3 separate regions of the Homo sapiens genome follow, and all the other regions are linked to region 2. The links come from fine-mapping of genetic effects on gene expression. A gene starts in region 2. Each other region holds a variant in brackets. All regions are shown on one strand. Distances are between the middles of the regions.

Region 1 (6,107 bases), 35 kb before region 2:
CTATAGGAGCACGCCAACCATGCCAGCTAATTTTTATTTTTTATTTGGTAAAGATGGGGTCATGCTGTGTTGCCCAGGCTGGTCTCAAATTCCTGGGCTCCAAGGATTTGCTGGCCTTAGCCTCCCAAAGCACTGGGATTACAGATTTCAGCCACCGCATCTGGCTGGGTAATCTTTAGTTGTAGGGGATTCTCCTGTGTGCTGCAGGATTCAGCAACATCCCTGGTCTCGACTCACTGGATGACAGGAGTACCCCACCTTAGATGTGACAGCCAGAAATTCTCTCATACCAGATGTGGGAGCTCACACCTGTCATCTCAGCACTTGGGAGACTGAAAAAGGAGGTTTGCTTGAGGCCAGGAGATTGAGGCTGCAGTGAGCTGTGATGTCACCACTGCACTCCAGCCTGGACAACAGGGTGAGGCCCTGTTTCCAAAAAAAACGAAAGTCTGTTGATGTTGCTTCATGGCCCTGGAATAGTAAAATTTCTCCAGCAGAGAACCGCTGCCTCTGACCTTAGCCCAGGGTTTATGCACCTGAAGTTAATTGAAGTCCTTTAGAAAACACAGCCTCTGGCCGGGCTGGCCTGTAATCCCAGCACGTTGGGAGGCCTAGGCAGGTGGATCACCTAAGGTCAGGAGTTCGAGACCAGCCTAACCAATATGGTGAAACCCTGTCCCTATTAAGAACACAAAAATTGGCCAGGTGCAGTGGCTCACGCCTGTAATCCCAGCACTTTGGGAGGCCGAGGCGGGTGGATCACGAGGTCAGGAGATCGAGACCATCCTGGCTAACACGGTGAAACCCCGTCTACTAAAAATACAAAAAAGTTAGCCAGGCGTGGTGGCGGGTGCCTGTGGTCCCAGCTACTTGGGAGGCTGAGGCAGGAGAATGGCGTGAACCCGGGAGGTGGAGCTTGCAGTGAGCTGAGATCGGGCCACTGCACTCCAGCCTGGGCGACAGAGCAAGACTCCGTCTCAAAAAAAAATAAAAAAAAAATTAGCCGGGTGTGGTTGCGGGTGCCTGTAATCCCAGCTATTCGGGAGGGTGAGGCAGGAGAATCGCTGGAACCGGGGAGTTAGAGGTGCAGTGAGCTGAGATTGTGCCATTGCACTCCAGCCTGGGCAACAAAAGTGAAACTCTGTCTCAAAAAAAAAAAAAAAAAAAAAAAAAACAGCCTTGCCGAGCGCAGTGGCTCACGCCTATAGTCCCAGCACTTTGGGAGGCCAAGGCGGGTGGATCATCTGAGGTCGGGAGTTCGAGACCAGCCTGACCAACATGTAGAAACCCCATCTCTACTACAAATATAAAATTAGCTGGTCGTGGTGGTGCATGCCTGTAATACCAGCTACTTGGGAGGCTGAGGCAGGAGAATTGCTTGAACCTGGGAGGTGGAGGTTATAGTGAGCCAAGAGCGCGCCACTGCACTCCAGCCTGGGCAACAGAGTGAGACTCCATCTCAAAAAAAGAAAAAACATGGCCTCATCGGCCTCCCAAAGTGCTGGGGTTACAGGTGTGAGCCACTGCACCCAGCCCTTTTTTTTTTTTTTTTTTTCTGAGACGGACTCTCACTGTGTCTCACCGTGTCACCCAGGCTGGAGTGCAGTGATGCGATCTCGGCTCACTGAAACCTCCGCCTCCTGGGTTCAAGTGAATCTCCTGCCTCAGCCTCCTGAGTAGCTGGGATTACAAGCACCCGCCACCACGCCCGGCTAATTTTTGCATTTTTTTAGTAGAGACAGGGTTTCACCATGTTGGTCAGACTGGTCTTGAACTCCTGAGCTCAGGCAGTCTGCCTGCCTCGCCTCCCAAAGTGCTGGGATTACAGGCAGAGCCACTGCACCTGGCCCATCTGTATTTAAATAATTGTGCTTTCATTGGTTCTGTGGTTATTGAACTGTGAATATGTACCTTCCTATCGTGAGTCACATAAAGTGCTTTAGCATTTGTGCCACGAGATCCTAAAACTTGCTATGTTCGGTCTATGCTTGTGCACCAGAAGCTGTTGATCTATAAGGAAAAGCAGGGAGGGATCGTTGGGAAGGGATGAGGAGGTTGGCACTGGGCTGTGGGGAGCGGTGTGCAGTTTTGTTCATCAGAGGATGTGGACTTCATAGCGATGTTGTGTTGTGGGGTTTGTGTTAGGTGCTCATAGTTGGAGGTAACGACGGGATCTCAGAAGCCTTGCTCTGCTTGACTGTGGTGCAGACCCTGTGCTCTCTCTCTGGCAGGAAGCCCGTGCCTCTACTACTGGATCAAGATTATGTTAATTTAAAGAACCAAATTATAAAGGCGGAAAGACGAGTTCTCAAAGAGTTGGGTTTCTGCGTCCATGTGAAGCATCCTCATAAGGTGGGTGTGCGGCTCCTGCCCTGCGAGCCCGCCTAGGCCGCTGCTCCTGCCTGGCCGCCTCTCTCCACCTCAGTGCAGTTGAAGGCTCTGAAGAGGACTGAGTGCATCCCTGACTTGGCTTTCCAGTTTCTATTTATAATCTCAAGAATAGTTCCTGACGTATTCGTCTTCTAGTGTCAGCTGTTTATTTTAGTAACACATTTTTAAGTGTTTTGGAAATGGTATTATTTAAGTTTGGGCTTTCAAAAATAGTGGTGAGTTTATAAATGTTGAATTTTAGTTTATGTTTTCCTTTCTCTACAGTTAATTTTTTTTTGTTTTCTTTTTTTTTGAGATGGAGTTTCGCT[C/T]TATCGCCAGGCTGGAGTGCAGTGGCATGGTGGCAGTGGCAGTGGAGGCACAACCTCCACCTCCCGGCTTCAAGCCATTCTCCTGCCTCAGCCTCCTGAGTAGCTGGCACTACAGGCACGTGCCACCACGCCGAGCTGATTTTTGTATTTTTAGTAGAGACGGGGTTTCACCATGTTGGCCAGAATGGTCTTCATCTCTTGCCCTCGTGATCCTCCCACCTTGGCCTCCCAAAGTGCTGGGATTACAGGCATAAGCCACTGTGCCTGGCCTTTTTTTTTTTTTTTTTTTTTTTTCTTGAGACGGAGTCTTACTCTGTCATGCAGGCTGGAGTGCAGTGGTGCAATCTTGGCTCACTGCAACCTCTGCCTCCCAGGTTCAAGTGATTCTTGTGCCTCAGCCTCCCAAGTAGCTGGGATTACAGGCATGCGCCACCACACCTGGGTAATTTTTGTATCTTTAGTAGAGATGGGGTTTCGTCATGTTGGCCGGGCTGGTCTCAAACTCCTGATCTCAGGTGATGCACCTGCCTCGGCCTCCCAAAGTTCTGGGATTACAAGTGTGAGCCACTGCACCCAGCCTCAACAGTTAATTTTCTACATTTGCTTTAGTGATAGCTTTACTTTCTCTTATGGAGAAATTAGGGGAATTCTGGCCCCTTTAGTCTGAAATGACTGGCGAGTTTTGCGGCATGTACTGACTGAGGACCATGGCCGTGACACGGTCCCTCACTCCCAGCGTTGTGGGTGCCTTCTGTGTCACATGGAAACAAAGCACTTGTTTTCCCAAAAAATTGTTTCCATCTTTGGTTCCATCTCCTTTTTATTGGTGGGTTTCCTCATCTGCTTGTTCGGCTTTCTGCCATCTGTTCAAATTATCCACAAATTGCCCACCACAGATTGAAGTGCTTTTTTTTTTTTTTTGGAGACGGAATCTCGCTCTGTTGTCCAGGCTGGAGTGCAATGGCGCAACCTCAGCTCATGCAGCCTCCGCCTCCTGGTTTCAAGCGATTCTCCTGCCTCAGCCTCCTGAGTACCTGGGATTACAGGCGTGCACCACCATGCCTGACTAATTTTGTATTTTTAGTAGAGACTGGGTTTCTCCATATTGGTCAGGCTGTTCTCGAACTCCTGACCTCAGGTGATCTGCCCGCCTCAGCCTCCCAAAGTGCTGGGATTATAGGCATGAGCCAGTGTGCCTGGCCTGAAGTGTTCTTCTCTGTTTGCTGAAAGTATGTTCATATTGTGTTTTGGTGAGTTGTTAACTGGGATACAGAGACGTGTAGGACAGGCCAACCTCACTGGTGGAAAGGCATTGAAGACTAGAATGAAACCAGCCCCATGAAGAACGAGGCCTGTGCCGTGGGTTGTGTGGCTGGGCTCACGGGCATGCGTCCTGCCTGGCTGCCAAGGCAGACAGCAGGTGCAATCGCAAAGCTCCCTCCAGCTGAGCCGTCCGCCAGACGTGTGGCCAGGAGCCACTCCTGGGATCTAGCTTGAGGCTCTTGTTTGCTGCATGGACACCCACAAGATCTGAATTCTGGGCTCTTAAGGTTCTTGGTAATAACTGCCTGACCCGTATCTTCCAGATAATCGTTATGTACCTTCAGGTGTTAGAGTGTGAGCGTAACCAACACCTGGTCCAGACCTCATGGTGAGTTGAGCTTCCTTGTTTTATGAGACCAGCAAGGGCAGTGCAGGAATGTGTTGACTTGAGGCACTTGGGCAGTGGGTAGGCAGCCCAGTGACTTGGTTGTGGGCTGGAGTTGTCCGAGTGCCCAGTGCTCCTGCTGTATAAATTCCAATCAGACTCCCAAAATGGGCACTGGCAGTCACGGTAGGTGGCCCGTCCCCTCCCTGCAAGCCTGGACTTCCTGTGTCCCCCACCCTGAAGAGAGCAGTCAGTGGGCTTCCTCTGGGAGCTGTTGACTTGGCGCAGGGGGACCTTTTCCTGGGGAGGGTGGAGGGACAGGCTAGTGCAGACTTGGTCTGTTTCTCCACTGACATTGCATCCCATGGGAGAGGGGCAGAGAAGGTTCTGGGGCCGATTTTAGCAATGCATGTGCTAGAAAGGAACCCTAAAGTGCAATGTAGTATTTGGGGGATTCTGGGGATTCTGGTGAATTTTTTCCCATGGAGTTAAGTCTGTAAGGGTCATATTTTTGCTGACTGAATTGTCTGGTGCTATGACATGTTTAATAGAGAACCTATTTTGACTTTTCTTTTCTGTACTCTTTCAATCAAAGGGTAGCCTCTGAGGGTAAGTGACTAAGACTTCTCCTCTGCTGTCCAAGCGCTTTGGTGCAGGGACAGCGGCATCTTCAGCCAATCCAGTGCAGGCTCTCCACCGAAGGCTGGCTCTAGACTGGTGGTACGCACATAGCATAGCCATGGCCGACTCCTGCTGTGGTTCTCTGACGATTGTGCTTCTTGTTAATCCTCTGTCGTGCTTTGGTAATCGTATTGATTAGAGTTGGTAACTGTCTTGACTTGAATTTTGTCCCTTTAAAACTGCTGTACCTGTATGATAAAGATGCAGTACCTTTCTCTTAAAAAAAAATGCTATGGAAAGCTGTGAGAATTGAAGAGACAAATTGGCTGTGTCAGTGTGGGGTTATGTCATGATTTCTAGAAGCCCTGAAGTTGCTCTTTTGAGCAGCTTTGCATGACACGCTCTGGTAAAAGGTGTGCATCTTTAAATTATTTCATGGATACTTTGAAAAATATTGTATCACTTCAAATACAGCAATAAGTTTATATGTTCTCAAGATTTCATTTGTTTTTAAGAATTTTAAGTTCGTGGATTAATATCACTACTTGAATACTGACAGTTGTTGATTAGACACCGAAAGGTTACTGATTGTTGAATGTATCTGTGTTAGAGCTGTGCACTGGCACGCTTGCATCAGGGGCTGGGGCCACACGGCCGCCACACAGATTCCCCCGTGATGCCTGGAGCTGCTTCCAGAGCCGGGTGTCTCCAAGAGGCACCTGTAGGACTTCCCATTTAGAAATCTCTTGAGTGGGTTTGTATGTTACCTTCTCCAAGGTTTATTTAGGACAGAGATATTGCTGGAAGGTCATGGGTCAGATTCCCTCACAACCCACCTCGTCTGCGGGTGCAGCCCCACTCCAAGGCTCCCCGTTATTGGGGTATGTGAGGAGCAGTAAATATAAAACCAGTTCAACTGTCCTCATGGAATCACCCTTTCTGTTTTTGCAGTATTCATAAAGCTAGTGTAAGGTCTGGTTTTAGTCTATTAAATCTTAGAGATCTAAAGGAAATGCTCAAAATGTAGCCAGGTTTTAAATGCTTTAACTTTTAAAAAATGTAAATTTTTGTATGTTTATAGCTTCTAAATATGAAAGTTAAAGAATGTACTGTGATGAAATGTTCAGTATTATGTTGCT
Region 2 (6,107 bases):
AGTTTTGAGTCTCAGTGCAACAATTATGCTTCACCCCATCTCAGCAGTGTCCTGACTCTGTTGTCCAGGAGGAGGAGACAGTGGTGGTGGAGGGCAGCTCTCCTCTTCCGGGCCTTCCGACAACCGATCTGGGATCCACAGACAGCCCTGCCTCCTCGGGGCTGCAGGAGGAGGGACCAACACGAATGCAGGCCATGGCTGCCGGGGACGCTGGTCAGGATCAGCAGGAAAACAGTCAGCCAGGGACATGGCCGGGAACAGTCGCCACAAGCGGCTATAACGGATTAACACATTTTCTTTTGTTTTTGATAAACAAGTTTACTTGTAAATTTAGTCAGCATACATAACTAACCAAAACTTCAATATATCTTGAGACCCCCTTGGGGGGCTGTCTCCATAAAAGTGACTTTCCCAGGAGAGTGACTGGATGTGATTGGCCAACACCGTCTTAGCCCGCAGGGGTTCCTGGTGCCGAAGCCTCACGTCCCTCCCCACAGCGAGTTTTCAGAATCCAAAGGCCGTAGGAGAAAGAAGGCTGGCGGTGTTTCCTCTTAGAGGGGAGAAACTCAGCCTGGGTAGGAGACCCAGCCCCACGCAGGGAAAACTGTGCTAACGCTTCCGATGTGCGTGGCAGGTGCGGCGGCGGCGAATACGGTTTGTCCTCGAGCCTAACCCTGTCTGTGTTGGTGTCAGCAGTGGCCCCCCTACCACACACACAGGGTCCCTGGCGTCCCAAGACCACTCCTGGCAGCCCCGCCACTGGCTGCGCCTGGAAGCCGCGTCCTCAGGCCTCGCCTGGCATTTGCTGTCACAGAGGTTGCTTCCTTGGGTCCGTCCGTCCTCGCCCCTCCAGCCTGGGCGCCCCCCGACCCCTGTCTCATTCCCTCCACCACATGCAGCACAGTCCAGGAGGCTGGGGTCCAAGAGGGCCATGGCTGGCACCCGGCTTAGTGCTGAGTCCCCAGTGCCCAGCAAGCCTGGCACCCAGGAGGTGGTCAGCAAACGCTTCTGAACGACAGGAAGTGGGACTCTTCAGCCATCGATGATCCGCTGTGCGGCCACAGGTCCGTGTCTCTGTGTGTGTCTTTCCATGTGTGTCTGTGTGTGTCTCTGTTTCTGTGTGTGGACCTGTGTCTGTGTGTTTGTGTTTCCGTGTATCTTCTCTGTGTGTCCGTGTGTCTTCATGTGCATGCATGCGTGTCTCCATGTGTGTCGTGTGTGCGCATGTCTGTGTTCGTGTTTCCATGTATCTGTGTCTCCGTGTCTTCATGTGCATGCATGTGTATGTGTCTGTGTCTTCGCGTGTGTGCATGTGTCTGTGTTTCCGTGTATCTCTGTGTGTCTCCGTGTCTTCATGTGCATGCGTGTCTGTGTCTCCATGTGTCTTCGTGTGCATGCGTGTGTATCTCTGTGTGTCTCCATGTGTGTCTTTGTGTGTGTGTGCATGTGTCTGTGCACACTCATGGGAGTGAATATGGGCTTGGCTGTGCTGCTTGTGGCTCTGAGTGCCTGTGGTTTTTCTTCCCAATGAGACGGGCTGCCTGGAATGTCCGAGTCACCAGGAATGGCAGCCAAGATCAGATCCTCAGTGCGGGCCGTGGGGCCAGCTGACCCCTCTTGCTCCACCCCAACCCCCAGAGGTGGGGCTAGGAGGACGGTCCAGGGCGCTGGTTTGGCTGGGGGCTTAGCCAGAGCACAGTGATGCCAGTGGCTTTGTCCTGGTTTGTCCTCTTCCCAGAGGGAGAAAAATGCCAGGCCAGGCTGGGAATTAAGTCACACACCCACAGCTCTGCAGACCACCCCCCAGCGAGCAGAGGCTCCACAGTCCCAGCCCAGGAAGGTGCAGAAGAGGCACAGGTCACTGGCCCTGGGAGGAGCAGGTGACCTGGTCACTACCAGGCCTGCTCTTCTCTGTGGCTGTTTCCCACTGAGGGCCGGACAGGGAGGGTCAGGGAAGGGGCCTGATGGCCTCATCAGCCTTTTGTTCCTTGCCCAGGGCCCCATGGGGGTCAGCTGCCCCCAGGTGGCCCTCTCAGAGGTCAGGGCCCTCTCAGACGACAGCCTCTGGCCTGCATCTCCGCTGGCTGGGTCCCCGAAAGTGTGGCTGGAGGCCACTGCCCGGAGAGGGACGGCCCTGCAGAGTGAGGCGAGCCCTGGCCTGAGGCTGTCGTGCGGACCAGGCGCCCCTCTCAGCCCTGCACCCAGAGCCGGGCCCTCCCAGACCCGAGGGCCAACCCTGTCCCCCCACCAAACTGCTGTCCGTCCTCCCTCCATGGGGAGAGAGGGAACAGGGAGAGTGACGGAAGGAGACAGAGACTGCAGAGGCCAAGGCCCCAGAGTGTGCGACGGAGACAGACATGGGCGGGCGGGCAGCTGCCAGCACTAATACAAACCAGTTGGAAAAACAGGAGGAGAGGCCAGCAGAGGCCTCGAGGCCAGCCAGGTGGGGCTTGTTTTTCCAGAATGAAAGGCCCAGGGAGGGAGTGGGGGTGGCGGGATGTGTTCAGCCCTGAAGCCAGTTTGGAAAGGTCGCCGCCCGGGCCAGGACCCTGCTGAGGAAATGGGTCTGACCGGGCTGGGGTGGGGTGGGGTCTTCTGTCCTTACGCCGGTCCGTGTCCTGCCCGTTCCTCTCACTGGAGCAGCCGCAGGTTCCCCTCCCCTCGCCCTGAGACCACCACTCTGATCTGCACTGGGCTTCCCACTGTCTGAGGACTTGGGCACCAGAGCAGGGTTCAGGGGTGAGCCCCCCACCCAGCTGGGGCCCTCGGGGCCTGTAAGGAGAGCTCACTCCAAGTGGGCGGGCGGAACTATGCACTGAGGGTTTCTAGTGGTTGTGGTTGTTCAGATTGTTTTTTCTTGAGGTTTGCTTGATTAGAAGGAGTTGGGTTTGCTACACAGTGCAGGCTGTTATTTCGCATTTGTTTATGTGACTTTGTAAGTTTTCCCACAGTTTCAAATTTGTGCCTTCCATGGCAGGGGTCCCACTCTCCCCTTTCTCCAGGAGGCTTGTAATCCAGCACCTGGTTTCAGGGACACCAGGCTGCACCCTAAAGGCGGGCAGCCCCAGGGGACGGGGCCAGCAGGGAGAGGTCTGCTCACCCCAGCACCCCCAGGCCTCCCAGTGCTCAGGGTCCCCTGTCCCTGGCTGACTCTCCAGGTTGTAAAGGGGACTAGTGACTGGCAGCGTCCATCATCCTGGCCCAAGGGAGCCCACCGTGGCCCCCAGAGGAGACGGGTACCAAGGTCATGCAGGGCCAAGGGTTGGAGCTGGAAGGGCCATCTGGTCTGAAGGAGAGCACCAGCGTGCACCGTGGGTGGGGGCGGTCTCAGCGCTGGGAGGCCTTTCTGGGGCCTGGAGCAGACTGAGGGGAGGACCCTGCCCTGAGGTGGCTCACGTGGGGGGAGGCCAGAGGTGGGGCGGAGGGGCCACTCACCCAACAGTCCCAACCCTTCACCACAGGCCCGGGAGGCTCCTAGACGTGAGACACGATCACGTGGTATCAGGGGCCCATGTCCTCGGACCTTCTTGTCCCTCCAAGGGTGCGGTCACCACCCCTCCCCAGGCCTGACCGGTGAGGGGCTGGGCCTCTGCTCCCACACTGCCCCTCCCCAGCAGGCCAGCAACGATGGGGGAGGCCAAGGGGCCCGGCAGGAGCCAGAGGGGGCGGTCCCCAGACCGTAGACAGGCCCAGGCCTCCGTGATGTCACCGCGGGTGCTAAGGAGGGGGAGGGGGTAGGGCTGTTTTTCTGGAGAGAGACTTAGAGCCGAGTGGGACAAAGCCTGGGGCTGGGCGGGGGCCATGGCGCTGCCATCCCGAATCCTGCTTTGGAAACTTGTGCTTCTGCAGAGTGAGTGTGGGGCCCTGGGAGGCGGGTGGGGGGTGGCACGTGGGGCTGTGCGAGTCCGTTTCGGACAAAACCGCCCATCTGAGCTTGGGCCAGGAGGAGTGGGAAGGTCCCACCAGGGAAGAGGACGGGTCTGGGGGCGCTCGGGAGAGCCGCTTGCCAGAGGCTGTGACGTCTTCAGTTAGACTTTGGCCAGCCTCCCCTCCTAGGGAGTTGAAGCCCAGAGGGCCAAGAAGGGCTGGGGGCCCAGGCACGGCGGCGTCTCCCTCGGGGCCCCTCCTGCAGCCCCTCTTGCTGGGGCTCTGTTTAGGGAGTGGGTCAGTGATTGAAGGGGACCTGAGAACTGTGGGGTCTGTTCCAGCCCCCGCTCCCAGGCCTGGGCTGGCTGCTGACCGGGCACATTCCTCTGGGAAGCTCCCAGGCTCTCGGCCACATCTCTGGGGCAGTTTTCACATAGGATCTATGTGAGGGAGAGCAGCCCCCAGTGATCTAGAGACACAGGATAGAAACAGCTTTTATCACCCACGGGCCCTGGGGTGCACAGACTGCTGGGAGGCCAGGGAAAGTGGAGAGAGACAGGGACCCCCAGGCCAACCCTTTATTGGGATCAGGGCGTTCTGCATACAGGTTTCCCTCAGGGAATTTTTTTGGAGGCAGTTTCTCTCTCGCCAAGGAGGCTGCAGTGCAGTGGCGTGATCTCGGCTCACTGCAACCTCCACCTCCCGGGTTCAAGTCATTTTCTTGCCTCGGCCTCCCAAGTAGCTGGGACTATAGGCGCCCACTACCACCCCGTCCGGCTAATTTTTTGTATTTTTAGTACAGATGGGGTTTTTCATATTGGCCAGGCTGGTCTTGAATTCCTGACCTCAGGTGATCCACCTGCCTTGGCCTCCCAAAGTGCTGGGATTACAGGCGTGAGCCACCATGCCTGGTGGGGGAGTTTTAACTGGTGGGTTTAAGGCAAGCGGCACGAGCCCCGTGGGGCCACGCTGACTGTGGGGGGACTCCGTGGTGCAGCTGCACAGTCCATGTGGGGCGTGGGGTCTGTGGGGACACAGGGGGTGGTCACCAGGGGACAGTGCGTAGGGCGGGCGTCTGGGTGGATCAGCTCGAGGACGGGGGATGTGAATTGGAAACTGTCCCGGGTGGCAGCCCCGCTTCCGGTCAGAGAAAGTCCAGCCTAGATTCAGAGTGGATGCCGAGGCGGCCTACGACAATGAGAGTCCCTCAAGCAGCAACGCGGGCCTGTGGGGCGGCAGCCGGGGTCACGACCCACATTCAGCCTTCAGGCCTCTGCCCTGCGGAAGCACCTCAGGGGCTGCGCTGAGCCTTAGGTGTGGTGTGGGGTCCCCAGCGTCTGAGGGTCCAAGGACCCTCGGGGGCTGGGGCACAGCCCTGGAGGGAGCGTGGGGGAACCCACAGATCCAGCCTCCTTGGTGCTCTGGGTGACTTGGGTGCAGCCAGGTGGAGTGGCCCCGGTGACAAGCACACACCCCAGAACCGGCTGGCTTGGAGCCTGGCCCTGGCCCACGCCCATGCCCTGGCTTCCCCACTCAAGGGCAGGTGCCATCCAAAGCCCAGCACGGTGGCAGGGAGGGCTATGTAGGTCTGTGTGAGAGGCGTCCTCCCTGCACTGAAGTGGGTGTCACAGCATCCACTTTGGGACTACAGGAGGGACTCTGGGGGCCAAGTGGGGGGTCTCGGGGCTGGGTGGGGCTGTGGGTGGCCTCTCCAGCTCACTCCTCTCCTTCCAGGCTCTGCTGTTCTCCTGCACTCAGGTTAGTGACCCCAGCCCCAGCTGCCCACCCCCACTCCCCCTCAGCCCCTCCTATCTTGCCAGGCCCAGCCCCCGGGGGTCCTCAGGCCCTGCCCCTCCCCCACTGATTCCCCCTTGCTCATCAGGACCCTTGGGCACCTCCCCTTGCCAATAACTCCCCCTCCCCCAATGACTCCTCTTCCCCTACCAGGGCCCTTGGGGGCCTGGCCCTCCCCCACAGACTCCCGCACACCCACCAGGGCCCTCGGGGGCCCACCCCTCCCCCACAGATGCCCCCACTGACTCCCCTTCCCCAACCAGGGCCTTCGGGGTCTGCCCCTCCCCTACTGAGTCCCCTTCCCCACCAGGGCCCTCGGGGCCCACCACTCCCCCATGGACTCCCCATCCCCCACTAGGGTCCTTGGGCCCCATGTCTCCCCGACTGACTTGCCCTCCCCCATGGACTCCCCCTCCCCTGCCAGGGCCCTCGGGGGTCCACCACTC
Region 3 (6,107 bases), 62 kb after region 2:
AGGTGAGCCTTTGGGAGGGGTGGGGCTGGGCCAGGCCTCCGTGACCTTCCCTAATGCCACCCCCAACAGCTGGACCAGCTGGTGATCGACTCTGCGGTGGAAAAGCGTGAGATGGAGCGAAAGCACGCCGCCATCCAGCAGCGGGTGAGGCCGCGCAGCCGGCTCCCTGCACACCAGGCGCCTGGGAGGCCCCTGCGTCCTCACCCCATGCCCGGCACACCCTCCCCGCCCCTTCCTCCTGCCTGTCTCCCACCTGCCCTGCCCACACCCTCTCTAGGGGACCAAGGCTGCTCCCTTTGATGTGTGCAGTGGAGGGGCACGTGTGGGTGGGGCCGCTGCTGGGATCTCCTTTTGAGGCGGTGGTCACCTCTGTGGCCTCAGTCACTGGCTCCTTGCGGGGCCTTTGCTTGCCTGTGGGACAGCAGCCCCGGCCACCATCCCGGGCAGAGGTTGGCTGCAGGCAGGAGTGGCTATTTTGGGATAGGGGAGAGCCCCCCAGGAGTTGGGGACGGGTCCACCAGTCACCAGGAGTTGGGGACGGGTCCACCAGTCACCAGGAGTTGGCAGCCGTCACTCACTGGCTTTCTCCCCCTACCCCCTCCTGCTCCGGCCCTCCAGACGCTGCTGCAGGTAAGTGAGCACGGGCCCTGGGCGGGCTGTGGGTCGGGGGAGACCAGATGGGGCGGTGCCTTTCCCTCCTCTACCCCAAGGGCACTTCAGCACCAAGGACACCTCCCACCAGTCTCGGCTCCTGCTGCTGATGCGGCTGTGAGGGGCTGGCTCCGGCCAGACCTCCACATTCCCCGTGGGGTTGGCGGCAGCTGTCCCTTCCCATCCCATGTGGCCTGGGGAGCAGGTGGCCGCCCCTCCCCTCTGCTTCCCTGGCCTGCCAGATGGCGGGACACACAGGGCCCTCAGTGACTCCCAGGCCTCCTGAATGGGGCTCTGTCCGCCCAGCTGGCCACATGAATGGGGCACTCAGGATGCGGAGGGTGGGGGCGCAGCTTCCTTCCTGATCGCAGCCTGCTGGTCCCTGCAGGGCTGGGGTGGGGCCGGCACTCTCGGGCCCCCAGCTGTGAACGTGAGGGGTCTGCCCCACGGGTTGCAGGGCTGGGGGCCTTGCTCAGGTCAAGAAGTGGCTGTGGTGAACAGAGGGTCTCTCGTCTGAGCGTGTGGTCCGTGGGCCGTGTGGCAGCCTCAGACAAGGACCTCACCCCCACCTGTGCTCCGGGAAAGCACGGAGGGTAGCAGGGCCCCTGGGGTGGGCACTGAGGGGGCGGGTTCCATCCCCCCAGGACTTCTCCTACGATGAGTCCAAAGTGGAGTTTGACGTGGACGCGCCCAGTGGGGTGGTGATGGAGGGCTACCTCTTCAAGAGGGCCAGCAACGCTTTCAAGACATGGAACCGGTGAGAGGCCTTCCTCAGGTGGGGGCGGGGTCCTTAGGCGGGGGTGGGGTCCTCAGGCGGGGGTGGGGTCCTCAGGTGGGGGCAGGGGTCACAGCAGCCCTGGGATGGGCCCCGCCTGACTCCCCACATCCCCCCACCCACCTAGGCGCTGGTTCTCCATTCAGAACAGCCAGCTGGTCTACCAGAAGAAGCTCAAGGTGTGCCCTGGGCCTGGGGCTGGGGCCCTGATGGCTGGACGCCCCACCTGGGCCACAGGGCAGACTGGTCAGTTGGGGTTAGCACAGGGCCGGGGCACTAGTGGACGCCGGAGCCGGAACAGTCAGGGAGCAGAGAGCTGGACACGGGGCTTGGGGCTCAGGCAGTCGGCCTCCGGGTCTCCAAGGTGAAGCAGGAAGTGGGTGGTCGGGGCCGGGTGGTGGCTGAGGGCAGGGGCCACAGCGGTGCCGCCCACAGGATGCCCTCACCGTGGTGGTGGATGACCTCCGCCTGTGCTCTGTGAAGCCGTGTGAGGACATCGAGCGGAGGTTCTGCTTCGAGGTGCTGTCACCCACCAAGTGAGGAGGCCCAGCCCAGGGTGGGGCGGGGGGCGTACCTGCCCACCGGAGCTGACGCCCGCCCCTCCACTGCCTGCAGGAGCTGCATGCTGCAGGCTGACTCCGAGAAGCTGCGGCAAGCCTGGGTCCAGGCTGTGCAGGCCAGCATCGCCTCCGCCTACCGCGAGAGCCCTGACAGTTGCTATAGCGAGGTGTGGCCCTTGGTGCCCCTGCCCCAAGCCCGTGCACACACACGTGCCACCGGGGATGGCCCCTGCCCCGCGCCTGTGCACACACACACGTGCCACCGGGGATGGCCCCTGCCCCGTGCCCGTGCACACGTGCCACCGGGGATGGCCCCTGCCCCGCGCCTGTGCACACACACACGTGCCACTGGGGATGGCCCCTGCCCCGTGCCTGTGCACACACACACGTGCCACCGGGGATGGCCCCTGCCCCAAGCCCGTGCACACACACACGTGCCACCGGGGATGGCCCCTGCCCCGCGCCTGTGCACACACACACGTGCCACCGGGGATGGCCCCTGCCCCAAGCCCGTGCACACATGTGCCACCGGGGATGGCCCCTGCCCCGCGCCTGTGCACACACACACGTGCCACTGGGGATGGCCCCTGCCCCGTGCCTGTGCACACACACACGTGCCACCGGGGATGGCCCCTGCCCCAAGCCCGTGCACACACACACGTGCCACCGGGGATGGCCCCTGCCCCGCGCCTGTGCACACACACACGTGCCACCGGGGATGGCCCCTGCCCCAAGCCCGTGCACACATGTGCCACCGGGGATGGCCCCTGCCCCGCGCCTGTGCACACACACACGTGCCACTGGGGATGGCCCCTGCCCCGCGCCTGTGCACACACACACGTGCCACTGGGGATGGCCCCTGCCCCGTGCCGGTGCACACACCTACGTGCCACTGGGGATGGCCCCTGCCCCACACACGTGCACACGCCTGTGTGTGGCTCCTGCAAGCTGGGTGTGTGCTGGTGTGCACTGGCATGCTGGCTTGTGCAGTGTGGATGTGCATGTGTGTGCAGGTACCATCTGCCCATGTGAGGGTGTGCACGTATACACGCGCGTGTGGGAGTGTGCTCGGCACCATCTGCCCACGTGAGGGTGTGCACACGTACGTGCGTGTGCGGGCGTGTGCTCGGCGCCACCTGTCCACGTGAGGGTGTGCGCGTGTGTGCGTGTGCGGGCGTGTGCTCGAGGGGGGG[GC/C]CATCTGCCCACGTGAGGGTGTGCGCGTGTACGTGCGTGTGCGGGCGTGTGCTCGAGGGGCCCTGGCCTGCATTGGCTCTTCTGGCTGGGGAGGAGGGGGCCTGCTGGGGAAACCATGCTGGAGCCCCTGCGGGACCGAGCAGCTCCACCCCATCCTCCAGAGGCTGGACCGCACAGCATCCCCGTCCACGAGCAGCATCGACTCCGCCACCGACACTCGGGAGCGTGGCGTGAAGGGCGAGAGTGTGCTGCAGCGTGTGCAGAGTGTGGCCGGCAACAGCCAGTGCGGCGACTGCGGCCAGCCGGACCCCCGCTGGGCCAGCATCAACCTGGGCGTGCTGCTCTGCATTGAGTGCTCCGGCATCCACAGGTGGGCCCCTGAGGGCCAGGCTGGGGGTGGGGGTTGGGCTGGAGCATCCACAGGTGGGCCCCTGAGGGCCAGGCCGGGGGTGGGGGTTGGGCCGGAGCTGGGGGCCTTGCCTCCCCCAGACTCATCCCTACCTCTGCTCTCCAGGAGCCTGGGTGTCCACTGCTCCAAGGTGCGGTCCCTGACGCTGGACTCGTGGGAGCCTGAGCTGCTAAAGGTGCGTGTGGGGCTCCTGGAGGCCACGGGACCCCGTTTGTGGGGGCGGGAGCTGGGGTCTGCAGGTTCGCACTGATGCCTGCTCGCCCTGTCTCCCGCTAGCTGATGTGTGAGCTTGGAAACAGCGCTGTGAATCAGATCTATGAGGCCCAGTGTGAGGGTGCAGGCAGCAGGAAACCCACAGCCAGCAGCTCCCGGTGAGGTGGGGTACAGTCTGGATCAGTCAGGGAGCCCCAGCCTGGGGGCACAGCCTCATGTTCCCCCCTGGTCCAGGCAGGACAAGGAGGCCTGGATCAAGGACAAATACGTGGAAAAGAAGTTTCTGCGGAAGGCGCCCATGGCACCAGCCCTGGAGGCCCCAAGACGCTGGAGGGTGCAGAAGTGCCTGCGGCCCCACAGCTCTCCCCGCGCTCCCACTGCCCGCCGCAAGGTCCGGCTTGAGCCCGTTCTGCCCTGTGTGGCCGCTCTGTCCTCAGGTGGGAGGCCATGCCCCGGCAGGGCTGGGAGGGGCTTGCCTTGGTCGGGGATGGACTCCGTCAAGGGGCTGGTGGCAGGGCTCTGGGGGCACCTCAGGCTCCGCAGACTCCCGGCGTGACCTGGGGTTCCCTGCCCCACCCCGGGCCTGTTCCACACTCTGAACACGCACTGCCCCTGCAGTGGGCACCCTGGATCGTAAGTTCCGCCGAGACTCCCTCTTCTGTCCCGACGAGCTGGACTCGCTCTTCTCCTACTTCGACGCAGGGGCCGCAGGGGCTGGCCCTCGCAGTAAGTGTGGGGTGGGCCCAGCCAGGTGGCAGGGCAGGGCCAAGGAGGCTGGCCTGAAGGGTGCCTGAGTGTGGATGGCCCTTGCCAGGGAATGGAGCAGCATCTGAAGGGGCGGGGGGCCTCCTGGCCACACAGCTGGAGGCCAAGGCCCTGACTGTCAGGGGTGAGCTGTGCAAATGTGTGTGTGGGCTGTGTGCACCTGGGTGTGTGCACACAGCGGGTGGCCCGGGGTGCTGGGGAAGCAGAGGGCGCTGCCAGCCGGCCCTCAGCCTAGGGCCCTTCTGGAGCCATGCTGCCCGTTGGTTGGGTGGAGACATTTCAGCCTGGGCCAGCCACAGACGGGGCTGGGGGGCCCACTGCGGGGGGTGCCGGGTAAGGCGGCGAGCGGGAGGGAAGGGCTTCCCAAAAGGCCTGGGCTTTAGGGGGCTACCCCTGGCACCTTTGAGCTGTTATTTGGTTTTCTCTCCTTTGCTCCTAGCCTGCAGCTGGCTCCCCCCGGCCCTGGGTGGGAGCTGGTCCTGTCCCTAGGGGTGGCCCCTGGAGGGTGGGTGGAGTTCCAGCCTTGCCCCAGGGCTCTGGACGGAGTCTGGGCCTCCCACCCTCAGGACCCCCTTCCCTGCGGACCTGCAGGTCTGAGTAGCGACAGTGGCCTTGGGGGCAGCTCGGATGGCAGCTCGGACGTCCTGGCTTTCGGCTCGGGCTCTGTGGTGGACAGCGTCACTGAGGAGGGTGGGTGGCGTCTTGCCCTCGCCCGAGGCCCCTGCCCAGCCCCTGGGCAGCCCCGGGGGTTGCTTTCCCTGACCGCCCCCTCCCCACAGAGGGTGCAGAGTCGGAGGAGTCCAGCGGTGAGGCAGACGGGGACACTGAGGCCGAGGCCTGGGGCCTGGCGGACGTGCGCGAGCTGCACCCGGGGCTCTTGGCGCACCGCGCAGCGCGTGCCCGCGACCTTCCTGCGCTGGCGGCGGCGCTGGCCCACGGGGCCGAGGTCAACTGGGCGGACGCGGAGGATGAGGGCAAGACGCCGCTGGTGCAGGCCGTGCTAGGGGTGAGCGAGCCACGGGGGCTGCGCGCAGGACACAGGTGCACAGTCGCGTTTGCATCTTCTGTGGCGCCCACACAAGGGTCGCCTGTCCGCGGTGGGGACCACGTTCGGTCCCGGCTGGGGGCGCCCAAGGCCGGGGTCAGGGTGCAGAGGCGCGGAGAGGGGCCGGTGCCGTGGCTCCGTCTGAGTTGCCCCGGCTCCCCAGGGCTCCTTGATCGTCTGTGAGTTCCTGCTGCAAAACGGAGCGGACGTGAACCAAAGAGACAGCCGGGGCCGGGCGCCCCTGCACCACGCCACGCTGCTGGGCCGCACCGGGTGAGACGCGCAACCCACGCCCCGCCCTGTGCCCCGACCACGCCTACCCCGGCCCGGCTACGCCCTGTCCGCCATGCCCTATCCGGCCACGCCCCCGCGACCACACTCGCCCCGCCCCGCCCCGCCCCGACACGCCCCTCCGACCTCGCCCCTCAGCCAGGTTTGCCTGTTCCTGAAGCGGGGCGCGGACCAGCACGCCCTGGACCAAGAGCAGCGGGACCC

What was found.
Region 1: its variant is fine-mapped to the expression of MXRA8 in whole blood (TOPMed, PIP above 0.99).
Region 3: its variant is fine-mapped to the expression of MXRA8 in hippocampus (GTEx, PIP 0.95).

Annotation. Positions count from the first base shown.
Region 1 is chr1:1,391,639-1,397,745 of GRCh38, reverse strand. CCNL2 (cyclin L2) reads left to right here. Exons shown (of 11, transcript NM_030937.6): 4 at 2,232-2,352; 5 at 4,286-4,350. Among named protein-coding and RNA genes, the nearest start is that of CCNL2, 4.6 kb to the left of the region's middle. RefSeq lists an enhancer at 4,284-4,784. The variant C/T (reference allele first, on the strand shown) is at 2,700.
Region 2 is chr1:1,356,199-1,362,305 of GRCh38, reverse strand. It overlaps MXRA8 (matrix remodeling associated 8), which reads left to right and starts at 3,751. Exons shown (of 10, transcript NM_032348.4): 1 at 3,751-3,850; 2 at 5,602-5,625. The coding sequence starts at 3,802. RefSeq lists a silencer at 3,618-3,737 and enhancers at 4,068-4,650, 5,238-5,790.
Region 3 is chr1:1,293,868-1,299,974 of GRCh38, reverse strand. It overlaps ACAP3 (ArfGAP with coiled-coil, ankyrin repeat and PH domains 3), which reads left to right. Exons shown (of 24, transcript NM_030649.3): 8 at 1-2; 9 at 70-144; 10 at 619-630; 11 at 1,296-1,408; 12 at 1,554-1,605; 13 at 1,862-1,962; 14 at 2,042-2,153; 15 at 3,342-3,550; 16 at 3,695-3,764; 17 at 3,866-3,960; 18 at 4,037-4,239; 19 at 4,421-4,528; 20 at 5,159-5,257; 21 at 5,347-5,573; 2 more. It overlaps MIR6726 (microRNA 6726), which reads left to right and starts at 3,805; the gene lies at 3,805-3,865. RefSeq lists an enhancer at 1,856-2,792. The variant GC/C (reference allele first, on the strand shown) is at 3,180.